Homo sapiens: one gene and its partner. The protein of the gene in region 1 purifies or fractionates together with the protein of each later gene. This does not show direct contact. Each region holds a gene or a part of one and is shown in the gene's direction. Other genes may lie near its edges. The genes, in order: ZP1 and ZP3.

What was found.
Region 2: the proteins of ZP1 (region 1) and ZP3 purify together in Homo sapiens (co-immunoprecipitation; 2 studies listed by IntAct). This does not show direct contact.

The regions. Positions count from the first base shown.
Region 1 is NC_000011.10:60,867,646-60,878,685, forward strand, and holds the end of ZP1 (zona pellucida sperm-binding protein 1 isoform 1 precursor), read left to right. Parts: coding exon 1-112; intron 113-1,499; coding exon 1,500-1,621; intron 1,622-1,891; coding exon 1,892-2,255; intron 2,256-2,686; coding exon 2,687-2,830; intron 2,831-2,847; exon of another isoform or gene 2,848-3,311; coding exon 3,312-3,499; intron 3,500-3,571; coding exon 3,572-3,669; intron 3,670-5,516; coding exon 5,517-5,644; intron 5,645-5,729; coding exon 5,730-5,919; intron 5,920-5,988; coding exon 5,989-6,130; intron 6,131-7,287; coding exon 7,288-7,369; intron 7,370-7,483; coding exon 7,484-7,603; intron 7,604-7,868; coding exon 7,869-8,011; 3' UTR 8,012-8,042; downstream 8,043-11,040. UniProt on the Homo sapiens protein: Component of the zona pellucida, an extracellular matrix surrounding oocytes which mediates sperm binding, induction of the acrosome reaction and prevents post-fertilization polyspermy.
Region 2 is NC_000007.14:76,434,413-76,446,806, forward strand, and holds the end of ZP3 (zona pellucida sperm-binding protein 3 isoform 1 precursor), read left to right. Parts: intron 1-5,837; coding exon 5,838-5,929; intron 5,930-6,062; coding exon 6,063-6,199; intron 6,200-7,429; coding exon 7,430-7,644; 3' UTR 7,645-7,657; downstream 7,658-12,394. UniProt on the Homo sapiens protein: Component of the zona pellucida, an extracellular matrix surrounding oocytes which mediates sperm binding, induction of the acrosome reaction and prevents post-fertilization polyspermy.

The DNA.
Region 1 (11,040 bases):
CAGCCCGACCCTGGCCTCCCAGGCCTCCGGCACAGCTACGACTGTGGGATCAAGGGAATGCAGCTGCTGGTGTTCCCCAGGCCAGGCCAGACTCTCCGCTTCAAGGTGGTGGGTGAGTGCTGGCAGAGTCCTGGCCCCTGCCTCCCTGGCCACGGGCTGCTGCCAGAAGGGAGCTGGGACCCTTCCCCTGAAGGAGCAAGAACAGAGGCCTCCCTCCAGCCTGGGGGTGTCCAGCCCCCCACCCCCTCACCACAGAAAAGGGCAAGGAGGAGAATCATCACCCAGGGCAGCTTCTCCCACGTTAGTGTGCATGGGAAACACCTGGCCACCTTGTTGAGGTGCAGGTTCTGATTCAGTGGACCTGGGGCAGGGCCAAGCCTCTGCATTTCTTTTCTTTTTTTTTTTTTTTTCTGAGACAGTCTCACTTCTTTCAATCTGTTCTCCAGGCTTGAGTGCAGTTGGCACGATCTCAGCTCACTGCAACCTCCACCACCCAGGTTCAAGCAATTCTCCTGCCTCAGCCTCTTAGTAGCTGGGACTACAGGTGTGTGCCACCACGCCCAGCTACTTTTTGTATTTTTAGTAGAGATGGAGTTTCACGATATTGGTCAGGCTGGTCTCGAACTCCTGACCTCAGGTGATCCACCTGCCTCAGCCTCCCAAAGTGCTGGGGTTATAGGCGTGAGCCACTGCACCCAGCCTAGGCTCTGCATCTCTAACCACGCTCAGTCAAAACTGAGGCTGAGGGTCCATAAACCACTTCCAGCAGCAGGACCTAGTAGGCGTGGCCTGGTGTGGGTTTAGAACTGGGGTTTGGATCTGCAGCTTCTAAACGGGATGATTTTGGACAACTGACCTGACTCATAAGCCTCTGTTTCCTCATCTGCAAGGTGGGGAAGATGAACCTGGCCGTGCTCATGGAACAAGGGCATGGGGACATGCCCACACCCAGGGAATGCCCAGGCTGTTCTGGGGCAACAAGCAGGGTGGACACCTAGGGGGTGTCTCCAAGCAACTGCAGCAGCCACAGTTAACCTGGGAAATGGGTTCAGATCTTTCTACAAAGCCCAGGATTCAAATCCTCATTCTGCCCCTCATTGTGTGCACCTAAGAAAGCTCACGCACCCTCCCTTCCTCAGCTGCCTCAGCCACAGGATGTGGATAACTAAGCTTAAAAGAAGTGATGTGAAATACTCAGGCCAGTGCCTGAGACCCTGTGTATCCCTTCTCCACCTCATCTTCGTGCCTGCCTGCTGCCGTGTGCTGTGAGCAGGGAACCCTAGCTAGAAAGATCCTAAGACCCTCCCATCCCCTTACAGCTGTGGAAACTGAGAGCAGAGAGGGGAGGGGGCTTGCCCAAGACCACACAACAAACTAATAGCAAAGCTAAGGCAAGAACCCAGGTCTCCTGGCTGCTGAGTGGGAACTCCTTCCGAGACCCCAGCAACCTCTCCCTGCACCCTTCAACATCCCTGGCCCCTCCCCTTCCCCCACTGCAGATGAATTTGGGAACCGATTTGATGTCAACAACTGCTCCATCTGCTACCACTGGGTCACCTCCAGGCCGCAGGAGCCTGCAGTCTTCTCGGCCGATTACAGAGGCTGCCACGTGCTGGAGAAGGTAGGGGTTGTTCATGCTCTGGCACAGGGGCAAGCTTGTCCTAGTGTCATGTCAGGCTGAAGAGGCCCCTCATGAACCAGAAAGGAGCCAAAGCCGAAGATCTGTTGAGCTGGTGGGTGAGGGAAACTAAGCTCTGGAAGGTACTTTCTGGAATCCACCATGAATCCAGCTCCCTGCCTAATGGCCAGCTCAGCTCTCGTGGGCCCGTCCCCTGCCTGGGTATGCTAGGTGGCCTCACCTTGCTGCTCTATGATGGCCTCTCACCTGCAGGATGGGCGTTTCCACCTGAGGGTGTTCATGGAGGCTGTGCTGCCCAATGGTCGTGTGGATGTGGCACAAGACGCTACTCTGATCTGTCCCAAACCTGACCCCTCCCGGACTCTGGACTCCCAGCTGGCACCACCCGCCATGTTCTCTGTCTCAACCCCACAAACCCTTTCCTTCCTCCCCACCTCTGGCCATACCTCCCAAGGCTCTGGCCATGCCTTTCCCAGCCCACTGGACCCAGGGCACAGCTCTGTCCACCCAACCCCTGCTTTACCATCCCCTGGACCTGGACCTACCCTCGCCACCCTGGCTCAACCCCACTGGGGCACCTTGGAACACTGGGATGTGAACAAACGAGATTACATAGGTACGCAGGACATCTGAGTGTACTTACCCTCTGTCTGGGGACTTCTGGAGTACAGGGTGGCCTAACAGCCTTTTACTGGGCTCTAAGCCATTTCTTTTTTTGTTTTTTTCTTTTTTTAGAAAAAGATGATTCTTTTATTCCTTTGTAGTATTTGGAAAACAGCTTTAAACATGTATAGGTGTACTAAAGCTAGAAGAGGTCTTGTAAATTTGTTTCCTAACTTTAGGCAGAAACTCATTGAAACCATTGCCAGCAACACCTGATTCTCAGAAAATATTCTCTAGAAATTTCAGTAATATTCAGTTTTGAGGGAGGACATTTACTGTGCTGGCTAAGAGCACAAGCTCTGGAGCAGGTTCCCAAGATTCAATTCCAGGGCCATGATTTGCAAACTGTGTGCCTTCAGCCTCATCACTCTGTCCCAACCCTAGGTACCCACCTGAGCCAGGAGCAGTGCCAGGTGGCCTCAGGGCACCTCCCCTGCATCGTGAGAAGAACTTCAAAAGAAGCCTGTCAGCAGGCTGGCTGCTGCTATGACAACACCAGAGAGGTTCCCTGTTACTATGGCAACACAGGTACAACCTCCCACCCCAGCAAGATCCTGGTCCCTTGGATTCTGAAGCGGAAGGAGAGCTGTCTCCTCCAGCTGGTGGAAACTGCTTCCTATCCTCCTCCTGGAGAGCCCAACTCCCAGAGCAGATGGCAGAGGAGACCTTTAGATGGGGCGGTCACATGTCCCAGCTGGCCTTATAACAACTGTCCCAGGGAACTATTAATAGATCTACCTTACACACATCTGGACTTTCAGATCTGAAACGCCCTGGTTTGGATGACAGATTATATGGTGAACCTACTTTTAGAGTGTAGTTCAACTCATTTGTCACATGGATGAGAAAATCAGTCCATAAAGGGTTTGCTGGGGCCAACACCAGCCTAAGTGGAGAGTAAGCGTCCATTCTCCTAGACCGGCACTTAAAGCCTGGCTGTCACCCAGCCATCCCGTCTCTGTGCTGGATGGACACCAAACCCCAAGGCCCTCATCTGCCTTTGTCCCAGCTACTGTCCAGTGCTTCAGAGATGGCTACTTCGTCCTCGTGGTGTCCCAAGAAATGGCCTTGACACACAGGATCACACTGGCCAACATCCACCTGGCCTATGCCCCCACCAGCTGCTCCCCAACACAGCACACGGAAGCTTTCGTGGTCTTCTACTTCCCTCTCACCCACTGTGGAACCACAATGCAGGTAGGAGCCGGGACCACAGGCTGGGGCCTGGTCCCCCACCAGAAAGCCTCACCCAGCTGTCTCTTCCTACAGGTGGCTGGCGACCAGCTCATCTATGAGAACTGGCTGGTGTCTGGCATCCACATCCAAAAGGGGCCACAGGGTTCCATCACGCGGGACAGCACCTTCCAGTAAGGGCAGCCCTCCTCCTACAGGCGTGGCTGTGTGCTAGGGTGTCAGGGGCACAGGCGAGCTCAGTACAGGCTTCGGAGCCATCTCAGCTCAAACCCAGGCTCTGCTGTTACCCGGCTATGTGATCTTAGGCAAGGGGCCCACCTCTTCCCAGCCTCCCCTGCTGGGCAGGGGAAATGTCCCTCTCTCAGGGCAGACATGAGTGTTAAGTGGAGCCCTTCCATGCCTGGCCTGCAGGGCTTGGCTAGAAGCCCAGGGCCAGTCCTGAGAGAGCTGGAGTCCTGAGAGAGCCCTGTCTTGGTCTCTCCAAGAACCAAGCTCAAAGCAACTGAAAGTGTCCCCTTCCAGGTCCCAGGAGGAGGCTGAGGCTACGGCTGTTGCCCCTCCTAATGTCAGGTTAAGAAGCCACAGATGAAGCTGAAGATACCTCTCTGAGGATGTGGTGGGAGAGGAACTGGGTGGGGGAGGAACCCCTCATTGTTAGGGGCCTCCTGGACCTGCTGACTCAAGAGGCAAAACCAACCCAGGTGCCCAGGATGCCAGTGGGGGTGACCCGAGGGAATCTGTCTGTCATGCCTGGCTCTGAACCTGTGTGACCAGGGGCAAAGCACCTAACCTTCACCCTGTGGGACGGAGCCAATGGGTTGTAGAAATCTTGTGCTTGACACTGCATGGTTGCTGGGCATCTCCTTCCCCTTCCCGCCCTGCCGTGAGGGTTGGGGAGCAGGGGACTGTGTCACAGTTCAAATGTATTTGGCTTTAAAGCTCTAAGTAGCACAGAGGTGGTAGCTCACGCCTATGATACCAGCGCTTTGGGAGGCCTAGGTGGGAGAATTGCTGGAAGTTCAAGACTAGCCTGGGCAACACAGCGAGACCCCATTTCTATTTTTTATTTTAATTTAAAAAAACCCATATGTTCTTATGGCCAAGTGGTGGAGGACAAGTCTGTGTCATGCCTTTAGACTCTCTGATGTAAGAGCTCTGGGAGTCAGCCAGAGGTCAACAGAGTGCCTAGGGATTCTCAGAGGGAGGCAGAAGTCAGGGGGAAACAGCTGTAGCCAGCAGGACTAGGCCAGAGAGCTCCTCAGACACAAGGCCTTCAGAACAGGGGTGAGCCTCCTATACCTACTCAGCATCTCCTTGGTACCAGGCCTCTGGGGTGCTAGGAGGGTGTTGGCCCCACCAGAGTGTGGAGGAGTGGCCACCATGGCCCTTAGGCTAGTGAGGAAGATGCTAGACACTGTGGCCTTTAGGCTGTGGCAAACCAGCTGCAACTACAAGGACAATGAAGACACAGGTGCATTATCTTGTGATCTCACTCAGTCTCAGTGCCCTCAAAGGGAGGCAGTCACAGCCATTTTACAAATGAGGACACTGAGGCTTAGGTTAGAAGACTTGCTTGTGGTCCCAAAGCCTGTAAATGCTAAGAAGACTCAAATCCAGGTCTGTCGGGAGGCAGAGCACCTAGGCTCATTCACCAGCCTCAACTGTCAGGCTCCAGGGGCCTCGAACGGCACAGCAGGCAGCTGTGGGTAGCCAGGGCAGACCCAACAAGGTGCCAGCCCCCCGAGGGCCCATCTCTATCCTGCTGTATTCTCCCACCAGGTGCAGGGCCTGGCATAACAGGCTTGAGCCATCCCAGGGAGACCAGGTGGGCAGAGGAATGGGCAGGGTGAGCTTCCTGAGCCTGCCTTGGAAATGCTGAGTATTGCTTAAGTAGCATCCATCTGCCCTGCTGGACAGTACCCTATTTGTTGCACCCACGGAGTTGGTGCCTAGTTTATTACGTAAACAGGATGCTCTGATTCTGTGTCTTCTCCCCCACCCTCTTGCACGTGGACTTCAGGCTTCATGTGCGCTGTGTCTTCAACGCCAGTGACTTCCTGCCCATTCAGGCATCCATTTTCCCACCCCCATCGCCTGCTCCTATGACCCAGCCCGGCCCCCTGCGGCTTGAGCTGCGGATTGCCAAAGGTATGCTATGCTATCCCTGCTCTCTTCTGGCCCCCACTTCCCTGATGCACAGCCCGCCCTGGCTCATGAGTCACTCTCCCTGCAGACGAGACCTTCAGCTCGTACTATGGGGAGGATGACTATCCCATCGTGAGGCTGCTCCGAGAACCAGTCCATGTGGAGGTCCGGCTTCTGCAGAGGACAGACCCCAACCTGGTCCTGCTGCTGCACCAGTGCTGGGGCGCTCCCAGTGCCAACCCCTTCCAGCAGCCCCAGTGGCCCATCCTGTCAGACGGGTGAGTGCCCCCACACTCCCCCCACCTGCTCTGCCTCCTGTAAACAGCCTCTCTGACTTCTCTTCTCAGATGCCCTTTCAAGGGCGACAGCTACAGAACCCAAATGGTAGCCTTGGACGGGGCCACACCTTTCCAGTCGCACTACCAGCGATTCACTGTTGCTACCTTCGCCCTCCTGGACTCAGGCTCCCAGAGAGCCCTCAGAGGACTGGTAAGAAGCCCCGGCTGCCGCATGCCTGGTCCCATCTGTTAAGTGGGAGGAGCTGGTCGCCAAATCCCTCTGGCACCCTGTGAACTTATATGGACAAAGTTCTGGGATGGGGCTTGGCGTCTACCAGGTGTCATGGAAAGCAGCGGGCTTCGGGTCAGCAAGAAGGTAACCCATAACCACCACCAGGAGGAAGGAAAATGCTGCCTGTGCTGCAATCAGCCCTAAATCTGAACTCTGGTCATGGTGTTCTAGGGTGGCCTCACCTCACTTCTGATTCCAGAAATGATAATGTGTTCCATGTAATTCTTTGAATTTTCTTTAACTCAGCAACTTCTCCAGAAGGTAAAGGTAGATAAACTCAGGGTATATTTAGGTCTCCTATGTAATATACAGATGGCCTCAGAGGTGACAGATGCACTTGTCCCATTGAACAACGTATCTTTCACATCACATACCCAAATCTCTAGATTCTTAAATCACTGCCTGTTATTATGTCAGATGTAGACTGATTTCACTTGGAAGCACTGGTTAGTGTGGCTTCGTTCTCATCTCTGCTGTGTGCTGCCCATGAGTGGGGCCTCCTGGGTGCTGGGTTGGGTCAGCTCCTCCTGCTTCTGGTCCCGTAGGGCACTGCCCCTGCCCTTCTGTATCTGGAAGCGGTGGTAATCTGCCCTCCCCTCTGCCCCCAGTCACTGGTCTCCAGGGGTCACAAAGGGAGGGCAAACATCTATTATCCTGCTGCCTGGCCAAGTCCCACCTCCTTGGAATTTGCTGTCTCCCTCAGTAGGGCAGGTGGAAGGGAGAGAGCCAGCCCTCCCAGGGGCTGTGCAGCCAGAGGCAGCATTGGTGAAGCAGGCCCGCCAAGGACTGGGGCATTACGAAGTGCGGTGGTCCCCGCCTGCAGGGCACTCCACTGCAGACTTGGACCTTGGGGAGCAAGGAAGGTGTGGATTTCAAATCTGGAAGGAACACATTCAGCTCTGCACTCCCTCAGCATGGGCAGCAGTCATCATCTTGGTCAAGCAGCTCAGATTTCTCCCTGCCTGGCTAGCAGCAGCCTAGACTTGGCCCAGCTCGGGGATTCCATGTCCTTCCCTTTGTGCTTCCTGCCCGGTGGCACTGAGCCAGCCACTTTGATGTTCTTCTCCTTCCACCAGGTTTACTTGTTCTGCAGCACCTCTGCCTGCCACACCTCAGGGCTGGAGACTTGCTCCACTGCATGTAGCACTGGCACTACAAGTGAGTCTGGGTTGCGAGTGGTATTTGTTCCTTTATACATCTTCAGGCCTGTGCCTGGCCTCTGGGCCACAGGGGCAGGAGACCAGCCCAAGATTTCATTCTTCCCCTGGGCAGGACAGCGACGATCCTCAGGTCACCGTAATGACACTGCCAGGCCCCAGGACATCGTGAGCTCTCCGGGGCCAGTGGGCTTTGAGGATTCTTATGGGCAGGAGCCCACACTTGGGCCCACAGGTAGGAGGGCTTCTGGGTGGGCCCCTCAGGCCTTACCCACTCTCAGCCCCCAAGATTGTGCTGACAAAACAGGGATGCTCCAGCCATAGCTGAGGGCAAGAGATGGTGTCACTGCAGTCAGTGGGGAACTAAGTGAAGACAGACACAGTCCACCTCATCTGCAGAAAGGCAGCTTCAGCTCTGCCCAGTGTGATACAAAGTTCTGGGGTGGAGGGGAGGGTTGGAGGGGCCTCACCCAGCCCTGCCAATCCCGTCTCTCTGACAGACTCCAATGGGAACTCCAGCCTGAGACCTCTCCTTTGGGCGGTCCTTTTGCTGCCAGCTGTTGCCCTGGTCCTTGGGTTTGGTGTCTTTGTGGGCCTGAGCCAGACCTGGGCCCAGAAGCTCTGGGAAAGCAACAGACAGTGAATGGGCCCAATAAACAATCATTTCAAACCTACTGAAACCAGGTGTGGAGAAGTTATTTGTGACGACTAGAACAGAACTATTTCTTATGTGAGAAACTTCCTCCAAGTCAGCTCTGTCCTTCCAAAACTGTGACGTTGATTACAAATACTTCATATATGCCACACCCTGCACAGAGGCCAATGTCCCCCAAGGCTCAACTCGGGAGCCTCTGCCTCTCCACAAGGAACGGTGGCATTTCAGGCAGAGCAAACAGGACAAAGATACTGGAGGTTAAGACATTGACAGTCAAAGAACACCAACAGCTGGGAACTGGGCCCCTGGCAGGAATGAATGGCTTGTGAAGGCTTGTCACCTCCTCACAGACACAGAAGTTCTGACAAGGGCATCCTCAAAGCACCCTGAGCAGCTGCTGTCATGGATAAGGGTTACTCTAAGACTGAGTTGAAGGAGCACTTCACAGACCCCCTGAGCCTGCCAGCCTACCGCTAAAGGCTGCATTTCTGACCACAGCCTCCCATCCCTTCCCCTGGCCTCCCAAGACTATCCATGTGGGAAGGGCTGGCACAGGAGGAATGGCAGCCTGCTGGCCCTGACACTGGCTGCGATGGTGGGCATGGCCACCAGACAGGTCTGTGCCAGTGCTGGCTATGCCGCTGAGCCCAGTTTGCCCATGTATGGCATGGGCCTTCATCTCTGACTTGGCAGCAAAGCCCTTTCTAGACATGTCAATCCTCTAGGTGGAGAAGGGGACAGGATGCTAGGGTTTGGCCTCAATGGGACAGGGAGAAGAATCTGGTAGGGAAGCCTGAACTTGGTTTCAGACACCTTTCCGGACTTCAGGTAGAGCACGAGCTTAGAGAGCTGTTACAAGAGGAGCTGAGGTACTCAAGTCATGCCTGTGGCCTTAATACTGCATGTACCCCCTACTCATCCAGCTCTGGCCTACTCAGCCTTTCCTGTCTTCAGAATACTGGACAAGCATGTGGACCCCAGAGCTGGCTTCTTACTAGCTGTGTGATATTCAGTAAGTTACTCAACTTCCCTGGGCCTCAGATTTCTCATCTGTAAAATGAGGTTAATGTCTATTCCCATAGAAGTATTGGGTAAAATGAGTTAACAGATAAGAATGCTTAGAATAGTACATAACGGCCAACAGTAACTGGGTGCTATTAACTACTGACTAGAATTGCATTTCCTCTTGCCCCAAGCCTAATGCTTACTTAGTTTTTGTTGTCAATGTTTTGGTTTGGTTTTGTATGTACAAGTTTACAGGCCAATACGAAGAGGGGCTAGGGGAAACTGCTGTCTTTTGACTCTTCTAGCTAGAGGGAGAACATAAAAGGCAGGAAGGCCCAAACATTTGCCATGGAAGCTAAGTGACTTCCCTTCTCTGGGCCTGTCTTCCCATCTATGGCTAGCAACGGCCAGTCTTGCCCTGCCCAACTTCCTGGCTTGTACAGGGAGACACAGGATATATCCTGCAGGGTCAGTGTGATATAGGTGAGGATTCTTAGCTTGGCTGGTTGGAGAAGCCAGGTTGACTTGGTCTTAGGGGCCTGGGTTCTGGTTCCTTCCAGCATTAACTCCTCCTCCTTCCCCTCCCTCCATCATACAAGCTCATGTAAGGATTTCAAACTTCCAGAGGTACCAATTGGAATAATGCTGTGTAACTGAATTTGCTTTAACACAAGGGTGGATGTCTTGTGTCATTTCCTATCATTTCAAATAGAGGTAGTCTCTAAACTGCGGTTGAACTATGATATTTGATCTGTTGATAGAGACCAAGTGGGTTAAGGATGACGAGTGTTGAACACAATTACTTAAGCATATAGTTCTTTGTATACTATTTTCTTGAAAGACAGTCTTAGAACTGCTGGGTCAAGACCACACCTCTTATGACTGTGGGACTCGGGACTGTCTGAGTGTCTCCCCACCCAATCCCACTGTGCAGGCTTGCCACCACAGGCCAGTAACACTCTAAATCTTTGCCTATCTGAGCATCATAAGGCAAATGGCATTGGCCGTTTTGAAGGGGCTCTTTTTGATTAGAAGTCAAGCATCTTTCTAGCCATTGGTATCGCATAAGTTACCCTTCATGTCTTTTATCTACTCTCCACTATTTCTCTCCTCATCTGTAAAGAGCTTTCACAAATCAAGGGGCCAGTATCCTCATTTTATAAATTTTCCATCTAATTGGCCATTGGCTTTTCTCTGCCGGGTTCTTTTATCTTAGAAAGGATTATGTAACAATGAATTTTTCCCTCTCATATTTGTATTTTTGAGTATGGCAAAGACTTTCCCCTATCCTATATAATCATCCAAGTATCCATTTGCTTTATTGTGATATTCCAGTAACAATGCAATTGTGTATCTCCTACTTCCAAGTGTATATAGGTACATGATTTTGGCAACTGATAAATTGTGCATAGATTTTGTCAACAATTCCATGTCAAAGGAGTCTGTTTACTGAAACAAATATACAAACTATATGAACAATGAAGTTCACTGCAGTGCTAGCTTTCTCTCGGGGGAAGCAATCTAAACTTTGGCTTTCCTAGATAACAAAATTTAGTCTAAATTTTGCCCAATTTAAAGCTTTCTTCCTCCCTTCTTACTGCCTCCTGATGTGAGCAGGCCCCTGCTGGACCTTGAGAACAATTCATCAGACCCGATGGGGACAATAACCACTGTCTCTGACCTGTGGCAGGAAGCAGAGCTGCTCAGGGCCCGTCAGGTTTTGTCTCTTCCTGCCCTTTTGGGGAGGTGGGGATGGGGATGGGGGCAGAGGCTGTGGCTATATCTATATAAGACCTAAGGGAATCCCCTGTCTTTCCATTCCCCAGGCCCCCACCAGCTTCCATATACTTACATTATACATTGAGAGCAAATTAACTTCATGGTGCTTTGTTTTTAATAAAGGGGACAGAATACTTCACCGCCTGTTAGTTCAGCTGAATTCAACTCCCTGTCTGGACACTTATGTGAGAACATTTCATGGAAAAGTGCCACTTCTGTTCCAGCAGTAGGAA
Region 2 (12,394 bases), on another chromosome or scaffold:
CACTTGAGGTCAGGAGTTCAAGACCAGCCTGGCCAACATAGTAAAACCCCGACTCTACTAAATATACAAAAAAAATTAGCTGAGTGTGGTGGTTGGGTACCTGTAATCCCAGCTACCTGGGAGGCTGAAGCAGGAGAATAGCTTGAACCTGGGAGGCAGAGGTTGCAGTGAGCAGAGATTGTGCCACTGCACCTCCAGCCTGAGTGACAGTGAGACTCCATCTCCAAAAAAAAAAAAAAAGGCAGGTGTTAGCCTTCCTGGAGGCTTTCTGCAGGGGCAAAGAAAACCAGTGTGAACTTCGTAGCCAGGGTGGCTTCTTGAACTTGGTCATAGGTTAGGCTAGTGATTCTGAAGGCATCATCCTCAGCTGGAGGGCTTGTTGAAATTGATGACTGGGCCCCAACCCAGGGTTTGATTCAGGTGGTCTAGTGAAGCCTAGAATCTGCATTCTTAAGTGTTGGTTCTGCCAGTCTGGGTCCTCCCCTTGAGAACCTAAACTAGAAAACTCAAATTGACACTAAGAGGGAAGGAGAAGGAAGGAATGAAGATGGGAACTGCCTAATGGCTGAGGTGGGGGAGGGATGCAGTAGGAAGTGCAGGTGCAAGGACCAACATCTAGCCGGGAAGTACTGGTAAGTGGTTAGAAGTAAATTGCCTGGTGCGGTGGCTCGTGCCCATAATCCCAGCACTTTGGGAGGCTGAGGCGGGCAGATCACGAGGTCAGGAGATTGAGACCATCCTGGTTAACACGGTGAAACCCCCTCTACTAAAAATACAAAAAATTAGCTGGGCATGATGGTGGGCACCTGTAGTCCCAGCCACTCCAGGTTCCCAGGTGCAAGTGATTCTCCTGCCTCAGTCTCCCAAGTAGCTGGGAGTACAGGTACCCGCCACCATGCCTGGCTAATTTTTTTGTATTTCTAGTAGAGACAAGGTTTTACCATGTTGTCCAGGCTGGTCCCAAACTCCTGACCTCAGGTGATCCGCCTGCCTCGGTCTCCCAAAGTGCTGGAATTACAGGCGTGAGCCACCATGCCCAGCCTCAAGTAGCTTTTAAACAAGCTCACTGAGATGAGAGGTGAGGCGGTGAGCTTAGAATAGGTGGTTAGGAAGTGATTAAAGTAGGGGTTTCCAGTGCTGGCTCTATACTAATCATCTGGAGAGGTTGTAAAAATACTGATTGTAGAGAGTCTCATACCTTCACTCTATTGGGGTAGGGCATGGTGTCACATTTTGTAACATTAACTAAATCTTCATAGGTGTTTGCTGTAAAACTCCATGAACTTCAGTGTGCACACCATCTAGGTTCTACCACCAGCATTTTTTTTTTTTTTTTGAGACAGTCTCACTCTGTCACCCAAGCTGGAATGCAATGGTGCGGTCTTGGCTCACTGCAACCTCTGCCTCCGGGTGCAAGCAATTCTGCCTCAGCCTCCTGAGTAGCTGGGATTGTAGGCGCCTGCCACCATGCCCGGCTAATCCTTGTATTTCTTAGTAGAGACAGGGATTCATCATTTTGGCCAGGCTGGTCTTGAACTCTTGACCTCATTATCCAACCGCCTCAGCTTCCCAAAGTGCTGGGATTATAGGCATGAACCACCACGCGCCCCCCGCCCCCTTTTTTTTTTTTTTTTTTTTTTTTTTTTTTTTTTTTTTTTTTTTTGAGAGGGTCTCTGTCACCCAGGCTGGAGTACAGTGGCCCAATCTTAGGTCACTGCAACTTCCACCTCCCAGGCTCAAGCGATTCTCCTGCCTTAGCCTCCCAAGTAGCTGAGATTGTAGGCATACGCCACTACTGAGTGCCTGTTATATTTTTAGTAGAGATGGTTTCACCATATTGGCCAGGCTGGTCTTGAATACCCGACCTCAAACGATCCACCTGCCTTGGCCTCCCAAAGTGCTGGGATTACAGGCGTGAGCCACTGTACCCGGCCTGCTAGCATTTTACTGTTATCCTCCATCTACTGACCTACCTTATTCTACTTGGAAATGCATCAAAAGCCACTTAAGCTCCTAGGTGACTCTAATACGCAGCCAGGCTTGCAAACCTCTGAAGCAGAGGCTCATACGTCAGGGTGGCATTAAGGGACAAAGTAGAAACTTTTCAAAGATGACATCGATGCCACTTCACCTCCTCCAGCAGCTGCCTTGTGGGAAGAGAAAGATCAACACACAGATCAGTAGGGTAGCAAAAGGGAAAAGCATCTAATATTGATGAGATGGCCTGAAGCTCTCAGTGGTGGGCCCTGCTTCAGTGGGGCTGGGGATAAAGGAGGGCAGATTTGGGAAAAGAGTCCTGGCCCTCGGATCAGTGACCGATAGCTCCTTAGGGGAGAGGATCCTGGTTGTGGGAGGAAGTCAAGATTGACCTCAGGTGTGGCCATTTGGGAAGAAGATGGAGAGAAGTTTTCACAGAGGTGGTAGCGGTCAGCATGGGTATGGACTGAGGTGGTTTCTCAATCTCTGGGGGTTGAGGGGTAACTAAGACCAGAGAACAGTGCTGTTTAATGGAAGATAGTCTGAGCCCTTGGAGGGCCCCCCTTCAAAGGTAGGATTGATGATGCCTCAGTAGACTATGTCCCATGGCACAAAGAAGGAACAACCCTATTTCAGAGCAATAGGGTGGCTGGGCACGGTGGTTCACATCTGTAATCCCAGCACCTTGGGAGGCCGAGGTGGGAGGATCAGAGTTCAGGTGTTTAAGGCTGCAGTGAGCTATGATGGTGCTATTGCCCTCAACAGAGCAAGACCCTGTGTACTTTTTTTTTTTTTTTTTTTTTTTGGACAGAGTCTCGCTCTGTCACCCAGGCTGGAATGCAATGGCATGATCTCGGTTCACTGCAACCTCCACCTCCTTATTCAAGCCATTCTCCTGCCTCAGCCTCCCTAATAGTTGGAATTATAGGCACTCAATCACCACGCCTGGCTAATTTTTGAATATTTAGTAGAGATGGGGTTTCACTATGTTGGTCAGGCTGGTCTTAAACTCCTGACCTCAGGTGATCCACCTGCCTCAGCAAGTGCTGGGATTACAGGCATGAGCTATCACACTCCCCTCTTTTTTTTTTTTTTTTTGTTTTTTTTTGGGGGGAAATGGAGTGTCACTCTTGTTGCCCAGGCTAGAGTGCAATGGCGTAATCTCAGCTCACTGCAACTTCCCATCTCCCAGGTTCAAGCAATTCTTCCATTCCAGCCTCCCAAGTAGCTGGGATTATAGGCACCTGCCACCATGCCCAGCTAATTTCTGTATTTTTTTTTTTTTTTTTAGTAGAGATGGGGTTTCACCATGTTGGCCAGGCTGGTCTCAAACTCCTGACCTCAGGTGATCCACTGACCTCAGCCTCCCAAAGTGCTGGGATTACAGGCATGAGCCACCACGCCCAGCCTAGACCCTGCTTCTAAAAGGCCGCTATAGGGGAACTGCCCTGGGATCTTAGACTCCAGTTAGCACCAGAAAAACATACTAGGAAAAAGCTAAGGATGAAAGTACATTTCCTTTGTGGAATAGACAACAGGGCCTTGGAAGCTTCTTACTTGCAGGGCAGGTGGCTAAGATGGGCAGCTGGACAACTGCTAAACTGGCTTGTTTCTAAAAGTCTGAATTTACATGGTTTCAAGTTTCTCTGCTGGTGTACTTGGCCACTAGGTGGTGACTGAGGCTTGTGGCTCTGAGGCTTCTGCTGGAAGGTGGCAGAATTGCCATGCTCTGCCCGAGGTTGAGCAGGGAGGAATTTTAGCCCTGCCTGAAATATGAAGGGAAACTGACCTGGGGACGGGCCAAGGCTAGACTGAGCCCTGGCTCTGTCAGAATGGCCCCTAGCCCCAGCAGCAGGATGGAATGTCAGTCTAAAATGAGAAGGCTTGGCCAGGTACGGTGGCTCATGCCAATAATCCCAGCACTTTGTGAGGCCAAGGCAGGTGGATCACTTGAGGCCAGGAGTTCAAGACAAGCCTGGCCAACATGGGGAAACCCCATCTCTACTACAAATACAAAAACTAGCCTGGTGTGGTGGTGGGTACCCGTAATCCCATCTACTTGGGAGGCTGAGGCAAGAGAATCGCTTAAACCTCGGAGGTAGTGGCTACAGTGTACTCCAGCCTGGACTAGAGACAGACTCCGTCTCAGAAAAAAAAAAAAAAAAAAAGGGTAGCGGGGCAGTGCTTACAGGGTAGTTGACTATTCCCTGGGTGGTGGGGGGTCTTTCAGCTCCCAGCAGGAGCTCATATTGGGTTCATTCCCTCGTACTTGTCTAACGAGGGTGGGTAAACGTTTCCCAGAGGCCAGGACTGTCAGGGTATCAGCCTGGTGAGTCTTCTGGTCGTCATATCCCTTACAGGTGAAGGGAGACTGACGTAGGCTTGACTAATAGCAGAGGTATGTGCAAGGAAGAAAAGCCCAGGGAAGCTTGCCCAAAGAGTGAGCCATCAAACTCAAGTCTGGCCGGGCGCAGTGGCTCACGCCTGTAATCCCAGCACTTTGGGAGGCCAAGGCAGGTGGATCACAAGGTCAGGAGTTCAAGACCAGCCTGGCCAAGATGGTGAAACCCTGTCTCTACTAAAAATACAAAAAAATTAGCGAGGCATTATGGCAAGTGCCTGTAATCCCAGCTACTTGGGAGGCTGAGGCAGGAGAATTGCTTGAACCTAGGAGGCAGAGGTTGCAGTGAGCTGAGATCGTGCCATTGCACTCCAGCCTAGGCAACAGCAAGACTCCACCTCAAAAAAAAAAAAAAAAAAAACCTCTTAAGTCTGAAATGGAAACTCCACAGAAGCAAGTCCAAAAGGCTTCTTTATGTGCCCAAGGACCTCAGGTCCCAGAAACAACTTGGTCTTGCCTTAGCTGGCAATACAGTGACTACATCCCTGAAGAAAAGTAGCTTGTCAACTAGTCAAGTGGCAGGTGGCAGCGTCAGAAGCCCAGCTAAGCTGCTAGCTATTAAGGTGTCTACCACTCACCTCGGTCACCTGGGGATGGGCGCGGGTTTAGCAATGCTGAGTTAAGCCCAGGACTGGCCAGGCACGGATAGCTGGCACCTGTAATCCCAGTACTTTGGGAGGCTGAGGCGGACAGATCACTTGAGCCCAGGAGTTTGAGGCCAGCTTGGGCAACATGGCAAAACCTCATCTCTGCAAAAAATCCAAAATTAGCCAGGTGTAGTGGCTTGTACCCGTAATTCCAGCTGCTCATGAGGCTGAGGTGGGAGGATCCCTTGAGCCCAGGAGGTCAAGGCTATAGTGAGGCATCATCATACCACTGTACTCCAGCCTGGGTGACAGGCCCTGTCTCAGAAGCCCAGGGTCAAGCATGCTCAATGATTGGGTAAGTTTGGAAAAGATCAGGGGAATAAGTGGTGGATTCCAGTCTAAAACTAGTTGCTACTTGCTCTAACATTGGGTAAGTGAACCTTTACACCATCTTAGAGATGAGGCTCTTCCTTCCCCCTGTTTATTTTATGAGACAGTCTCACTCTGTCAGCCAGGCTGGGGTGCAGTGGCATGATCTCGGCTCACTGCAACTTCTGCCTCCCAGGTTCCAGTGATTCTCCTGCCTCAGCCTTCCAGGTAGCTGGGACTACAGGTACCCACCACCACGCCCAGCTAACTTTGTATTTTTAGTAGCGATGGGGTTTCACCATGTTGGCCAGGTTGGTCTCGAACTCCTGACCTCAGGTGATCTACCCGCCTTGGGCTCCCAAAGTGCTGGGATTATAGGTGTGTGCCAATGCACCCGGCCCCTTCTCACTCTTTAAAGGGTTGAGGGTTATAAGAGAACTGGTGTGTTAAACTCCCAGGCACAGCCTGGAACTCGGCCTGGAAATAGCTGTTATTCCTTGCAGATATACATCACCTGCCACCTGAAGGTCACCCTAGCTGAGCAGGACCCAGATGAACTCAACAAGGCCTGTTCCTTCAGCAAGCCTTCCAACAGGTGAGGAGGACAGGTGCTCCGTGACTGGAGTAGAAACTGAATCGGCGACCCCTTGTCTATTTCCCCCAATATATTATCAGCAAACTGCTTCCTGCAGGCAACAAAAATCTAAGCTGCTTCTCTTTCATCTCAGCTGGTTCCCAGTGGAAGGCTCGGCTGACATCTGTCAATGCTGTAACAAAGGTGACTGTGGCACTCCAAGCCATTCCAGGAGGCAGCCTCATGTCATGAGCCAGTGGTCCAGGTCTGCTTCCCGTAACCGCAGGCATGGTATGTCACAGAATGGCCAAGAGGCTGTTCATTGTCCCTTACTCAGTTGAGGGTACCTGCTGTCATTTCAGGGTGATGGTATTTTCCCTTGTCCTCCATTAAAACTGTTTGTACCTAGGCCTGCAGCTACCTTTCCCTAACACAAATCTTGGGGTTAAGCAGGAGGGGCTCTCAGCCTTCCACCTCGGTGGCAGCCAGGGAGATCTGCTGTCATCCTAGGCTTCTACTGAGACATAATTAGGCATGTAGGGGAAATATAGCAGTTGTTAAGATAATCTGGCTTGGCATAGTGGCTCAGGCCTGTAATCCCAGCACTTCGGGAGGCCAAGGCGGGCAGGTCACCTGAGGTCAGGAGTTCGAGACCAGCCTGACCAACATGGAGAAACCCCATCTCTACTAAAAATAAAAAATTAGCTGGGCGTGGTGGTACATGCCTGTAATCCCAGCTACTTGGGAGGCTGAGGCAGGAGAATCACTTGAATCTGGGAGGCAGAGGTTGCAGTGAGCCGAGATTGCACCATTGTACTCCAGCCTGGGCAACAAGAGTAAAACTGTCTCTCAAAAAAAAAATAATAATCTGGCCAGAACAGTGGGTTGTGCCTATAATCCTAGCACTTGGGGAGGCTGAGGCCAGGGAAATCGCTTGAGCCCCATGAGTTCTCGACCAGCCTGGGCAACATAGCAAGACCCTGTCTCTACAAAAAAGATGATGTACTAGGGAATCCCTCTTGGGTGACCTGCTTTCTCCGTATGAGAAAGCTGTCTTTTTCTTTTTTCTTCCCCCTCCCCTGCACCAAGATGGTGTCTAGCTCTGTCCTCCAGGCTGGAGAGCAATGGCACGATCTCTGCTCACTGAAACCTCTACCTCCCAGGTTCAAGCTATTCTCCTGCCTCAGCCTCCCAAGTAGCTGAGACTACAGGCATGTGCCACCATGCCCAGTTAACTTTTTTATTTTCAGTAGAGACGGGTCTTGCCGTGTTGGCCAGGCTGGTCTCAAACACCTGACCTCAGGTGATCTGCCTGCCTCAGCCTCCCAAAGTGCTGGGATTACAGGCATTAGCCATCACACCTGGCCGAGAAAGCTGTGTTTTTTTTGTCTAGAAACTGTTTATTAGCCCACACAAAAAAGACAACATATTAGTTTAGCCCACTGAGGCAGAATAAAACCTCCAACCCAGTTCCCGGTTAGGGACTAAGATAACCCTTGGTTGTGTGTTCTCCTTTCACAGTGACAGAAGAAGCAGATGTCACCGTGGGGCCACTGATCTTCCTGGACAGGAGGGGTGACCATGAAGTAGAGCAGTGGGCTTTGCCTTCTGACACCTCAGTGGTGCTGCTGGGCGTAGGCCTGGCTGTGGTGGTGTCCCTGACTCTGACTGCTGTTATCCTGGTTCTCACCAGGAGGTGTCGCACTGCCTCCCACCCTGTGTCTGCTTCCGAATAAAAGAAGAAAGCAATATCTGGTCGTGGTGTGGTGGTCAGATGGAAGGTCAGAATTAGTACTGACTGTGTCGGGTGGGGACGACTGTATACCACCCGCCCCGTGCACTCACATAGCATAGTCCAGCAAGCACTACTGTGTCTCTACTGTAAACAGGGCAGGGTTCATGTCCTTAGACAACTATAATCTATCACCTCCATGGGAACCAACATGGAAACTCTTAGATGAAGGTCAGTCTGGCTGGACCCACCTTACTTCTAGGCTAGCAAAGAATCTTATATCTCTGGCCCCCATGGATTTGACTCTAGACATGGGAGTGGGGAGGAGAGAGCTTCCAGGCCCACTTCTCCAAGGCAAGCAGGCAGGCAGCTCTGTCCAGATGCTAGAGGCCAGAAGGCCAGTCATGACTGGGCCCTCCCAGTAGGGCAGTGATCAGAGCACTGCTTCTGCCTGGTCTTAGCTGTCACCTTGGGCTTGAAGCTATTCTTGGGACATGTTGGTATGAACTTGTCAAAGCTGCAGCAAGGGGTGACTGGCACTCCAAGCCATTCCAGGAGGCAGCCTAATGTCATAAGCCGGTGGTCCTGAGGTGGCTCTGAGGTGGGTACTTTTGCTTTGGGGGTAGGAAGCCTCAGGAGAGCTGAGAACCTGCTTTGGTTTTGGTTTTGTTTTGATTTGTCCCTTTTGAGAGAAAGGTCTGGCTGTGTTGCCCAGGCTGGAGTGCAGTAGTATAGTCACAGCTCACTGCAACCTGGAACTCCTGGTCTCCAGCCATCCTCCTGCCTGAGCTTCCTGAGTTGCTGGGACTACAGGCATGAGCCCCACTGTGCCCAATTTATTCTATTTTTGGTAGGAACTGGGTCTTGCTATGTTCCCCAAGCTGGCCTCGAACCCCTGGCCTCACGTGATCTCTCTCCTTGGCCTCCAAAAGCACTGGGATTATAGACATGAGGCCTCACTGTCACTGGGGGGAGCTGCTTCTCAACCTCCCCCTACCTTTATCGCACTCCCTAAATAGGCTGCTTCCCTCCCCCAGGTTTCAGCCATAGTTCCTAGGAGTGAATAAGGGAATTGTGCCCCAAGGAGGGTGCCCAGGGAACTTGTGCCCCCTTTGCTGGGGAAGGTGTTCATGGTACCTCTGTGGGAGGCTTCACATCCCTCAGTAGTTGGCTCCAGCCTTGCCCCAAACTCAAGCCATTCTCACTCGGGGAAGTTCACTTGCGCTGCAGCATCCCAGCCTGGCTGGCTACTTGCTGTGAGCCTGCCAGTCCTCATGGGCAACATGGGGGTGGCACCTACTGAGCAGGATTAGGCATAAACTGATGAAAGCTGAAAGATGCTCAGGTGCAACTGGCATGGTGCTTATCTCTGGCCCTTCTGGCTGAGGGCAGGGGCTCCAGCGTGTTGACTCGGGTATAGACATGTCTATAGTGCATTCAGAGCAAGGTTTGGGTAGCTTTGGACCTACTGAGAGCAGGAAGGCCTTTGATACTCTAAGTGTGGTCTGTGAACGTTGGCATCACCTGAGAATTTGTTAGAAATGTATCATTTAAAGCCCCATCCCAGACCTAGAAATTTGCATCTTAAATCCCAGGGTGGGGTGGGCATGGTGGCTCACGCCTGTAATCCCAGCACTTTGGGAAGCCAAGGCAGGTGGATCACCTGAGGTCAGGAGTTCAAGACAAGCTTGGCTAATATGGTGAAACCCCGTCTCTACTAAAAATACAAAAAATTAGCTGGGCATCGTGGTGGGTGCCTGTAATCCCAGCTAGCTGGGAGGCTGAAGCAGGAGAATTGCCTGAACCCGGGAGAGGCAGAGGTTTCAGGGGGCTGAGATCGCGCCACTGTACTCCAGCCTGGGCAACAGCAAGACTCCATCTCAAAAAAAAAAAAAACAAAAACCCAGGTGATTTGAGTGGTTAAGGGCACTGAGCCAGGGACTTGTGGCACGAAGGGATTGTTCCGGGTGAGCCGCTTGCGGCCTAAGCAGGTTGTGGTGTGATCTGTAGGGGAGTAACAGGCTGGGGTTCAAAAACGCCAGATACAGTGGTTCAGGCCTGTAATGCCAGCACTTTGGGAGACCGAAGTGGGAAGATGGCTTGAGCCTAGGAGCTCAAGACCAGCCTGAGCAACGTGGTGAGACCCCATCTCTACAAAATATAAAAATTAGCCGAGCACAGTGGTACGTGCCTGTAGTCCCAACTGCTTGGGAAGCTGAGGCTGGAGGATCACTTGAGCCCAGGAATTCAAGGCTACAGTGAGCTGTACTCACTGCTCAGGTCCCAGCCTTGCTGCCTCCTGCTGCGCTCTAGCCAGAGTGACAGAGCAAGACCTTCTCAAAAAACAAAATTGCCTAGGGGTTGCAGAGGTAGGCTTCCTGGAGGTGGTGATCCAGAAGCAAATCCTCAACCATGGGGAGGTGGATGTGGTGGCTCACACCTGTAATCTTAGCATTTTGGGAGGCCGAGGCGAGTGGATCACTTGAAACCAGGAGTTCAAGACCAGCCTGGCCAACATAGCAAAACCCCATCTCTACTAAAAATATAAAAATTAGCCAGGTGTGTGGTGGGTGCCTGTAGTCCCAGCCACTGGGGAGGCTGAGGCAGGAGAATCACTTGAACCCAGGAGATGGAGGTTGCAGTGAGCCAAGAGCGTGCCACTGCATTCCAGCCTGGGTGTTGGAGTGAGAATATCTCAAAAAAAAGAGGGGAGAGAAATGGGAGAATCTGTGCCCTGGGGGCATGGAAGGCCTCAGTGCCTAGTAAAGAGTGGGGCTTGGCCTGGAGAGGGAGGCCTCATGGGCCAGATAAGGGAGATACTGGCCCATCTAAGCATGCGTGTGCCGGTAGACTTTCCCTGTCAAGATGATCAACTGGAATGGCAGAGAATGCGGCCTGCAGGCTGGGAGACATCCTTGAAGCCATATCCCCAGGCCCTAGTCCCATCTGCCACTCTTTTTTTTTTTTTGAAACGAGGTCTTGCTATGTTGCCCAGGCTGGACTCCAACTCCTGGGCTCAAGCATTCCTCCTGCCTCAGCCTCCCAAGCAGCCACAAACCACACCTGGCTTCTTCCTGCCACTTCTAGCTTAGCAGGTAACTTCATCTGTAAAAAGGGGATGACGTGATTTCTTGGGGGAATGAGTAGAGCGCTTGGTAGAATCATGGCTCATGCAAGAGGTCTCTGAGCCGGGCGTGGTGGCTCATGTCTGTAATCCCAGCACTTTGGGAGGCTGAGGTGGGCAGATCACGAGGTCAGGAGTTCGAGACCAGCCTGGCCAACATAGTGAAACCCCATCTGTACTAAAAATACAAAAATTAGCCAGGCGTGGTGGCATGTGCCTGTAGTCCCAGCTACTTGGGAGGCTGAGGCAGGAGAATCGCTTGAACCCGGGAGGTGGAGGTTGCAGCGAACCAAGATTGCACCACCCCGGGCAACAGTGCGAGACTCCGTTTCAAAAAAAAAAAAAAAAAAGGTCTCTGGCAAAATGCTCCAGGCTTGGGGTCCGACGGGTACTTCTACCCCTGACAATCTGTTTACTTATCACCATCCTCTTTTCAGATGGGGAAGTTCTTTCCATCAGGATTATAGCAAGGATTGGTCTTCATGGCACACTTGGCATCCAAGCACGTGTTGTTGGAGCTGTTCTATGAGCCAGGAGACATCGGGGAACGGTTCTTGAAATAAACATCCGTCTCTTCCTTGTACTCAAGTTCTTAGGGGTTGCAACTTTCTGAGAGCTTGTCCTTCATTCAACTTCTTTTCTCAGCAGAAAGAGGAAGTGGCTGTGTCAGGGGAGGGGAGGAGTTATGACTAAGATGTGGCCATGAATGTCAGCTCCCTGCCAGCTCCAGATGGGCCTCAGCAGGATAGTTTCCCTGGGCCTTTGCCAGGAGAGACAGCCTCCAGCAGCAATGTCAGAGGGCTCGGCCTGTCTGCCTCCCAGGGGAACTAGACTGGAAATGAAAGGCAGTGGCAAGCCACTGAGGGTTCTCTAGACTCCATTGCTTAATCCTCCTCTTTCCCTAAAGTTTCCAGAAGCTTCCTATTGCATTGGAAAGCCTCTGTAAACCAACACTTTGGGTGTGGGTTTATTTTTTGAGATGGGGTCTCACTCTGTTGCCCAGGCTGGATTGCAGTGGCACCACCATAACTCACTGCAACCTCGACTTCTCTGGTTCAAACCATCCTCCCACCTCAGCCTCCCAAGTAGCTGGGATTACAGGGGCATGCCACCATGCCCAGCTAATTTTATTTTATTTTTTTAGTACAGACGGGGTTTCACCATGTTGGCCAGGCTGGTCTTGAACTCCTGACCTCAAGTGCTCCTCCTGCCTCGGCCTACCAAAATGTTGGGATTACAGGCATGAGCCACCGCGCCCAGCCAGTTCTCATTCTTCACTGGAGATTGTAGCCAGACATTAGAGAAAACTGGAAGAATCTAGAATCTAATCCAGTCTACAGGTAGATAAATAACTCAAACAATGAACATTACTATAATAACAGGTAAACTATCGTTTTTCTATTGAAATATAATTTTTCTCCCTATAGTCACCTTGAACTCTTGACCTCGTGATTCGCCCCCCTCGGCCTCCCAAAGTGCTGGGATTACAGGCGTGAGCCACCGTGCCTGGCCCTCCTTTATTTTATTTATTTTTTTTTTTGGAGACAGAATCTCACTGTCACCCAGGCTGGAATGCAGTGGTGCAATCTCGGCTCACAGCAACTTCCACCTCCCGGGTTCAAGCGATTCT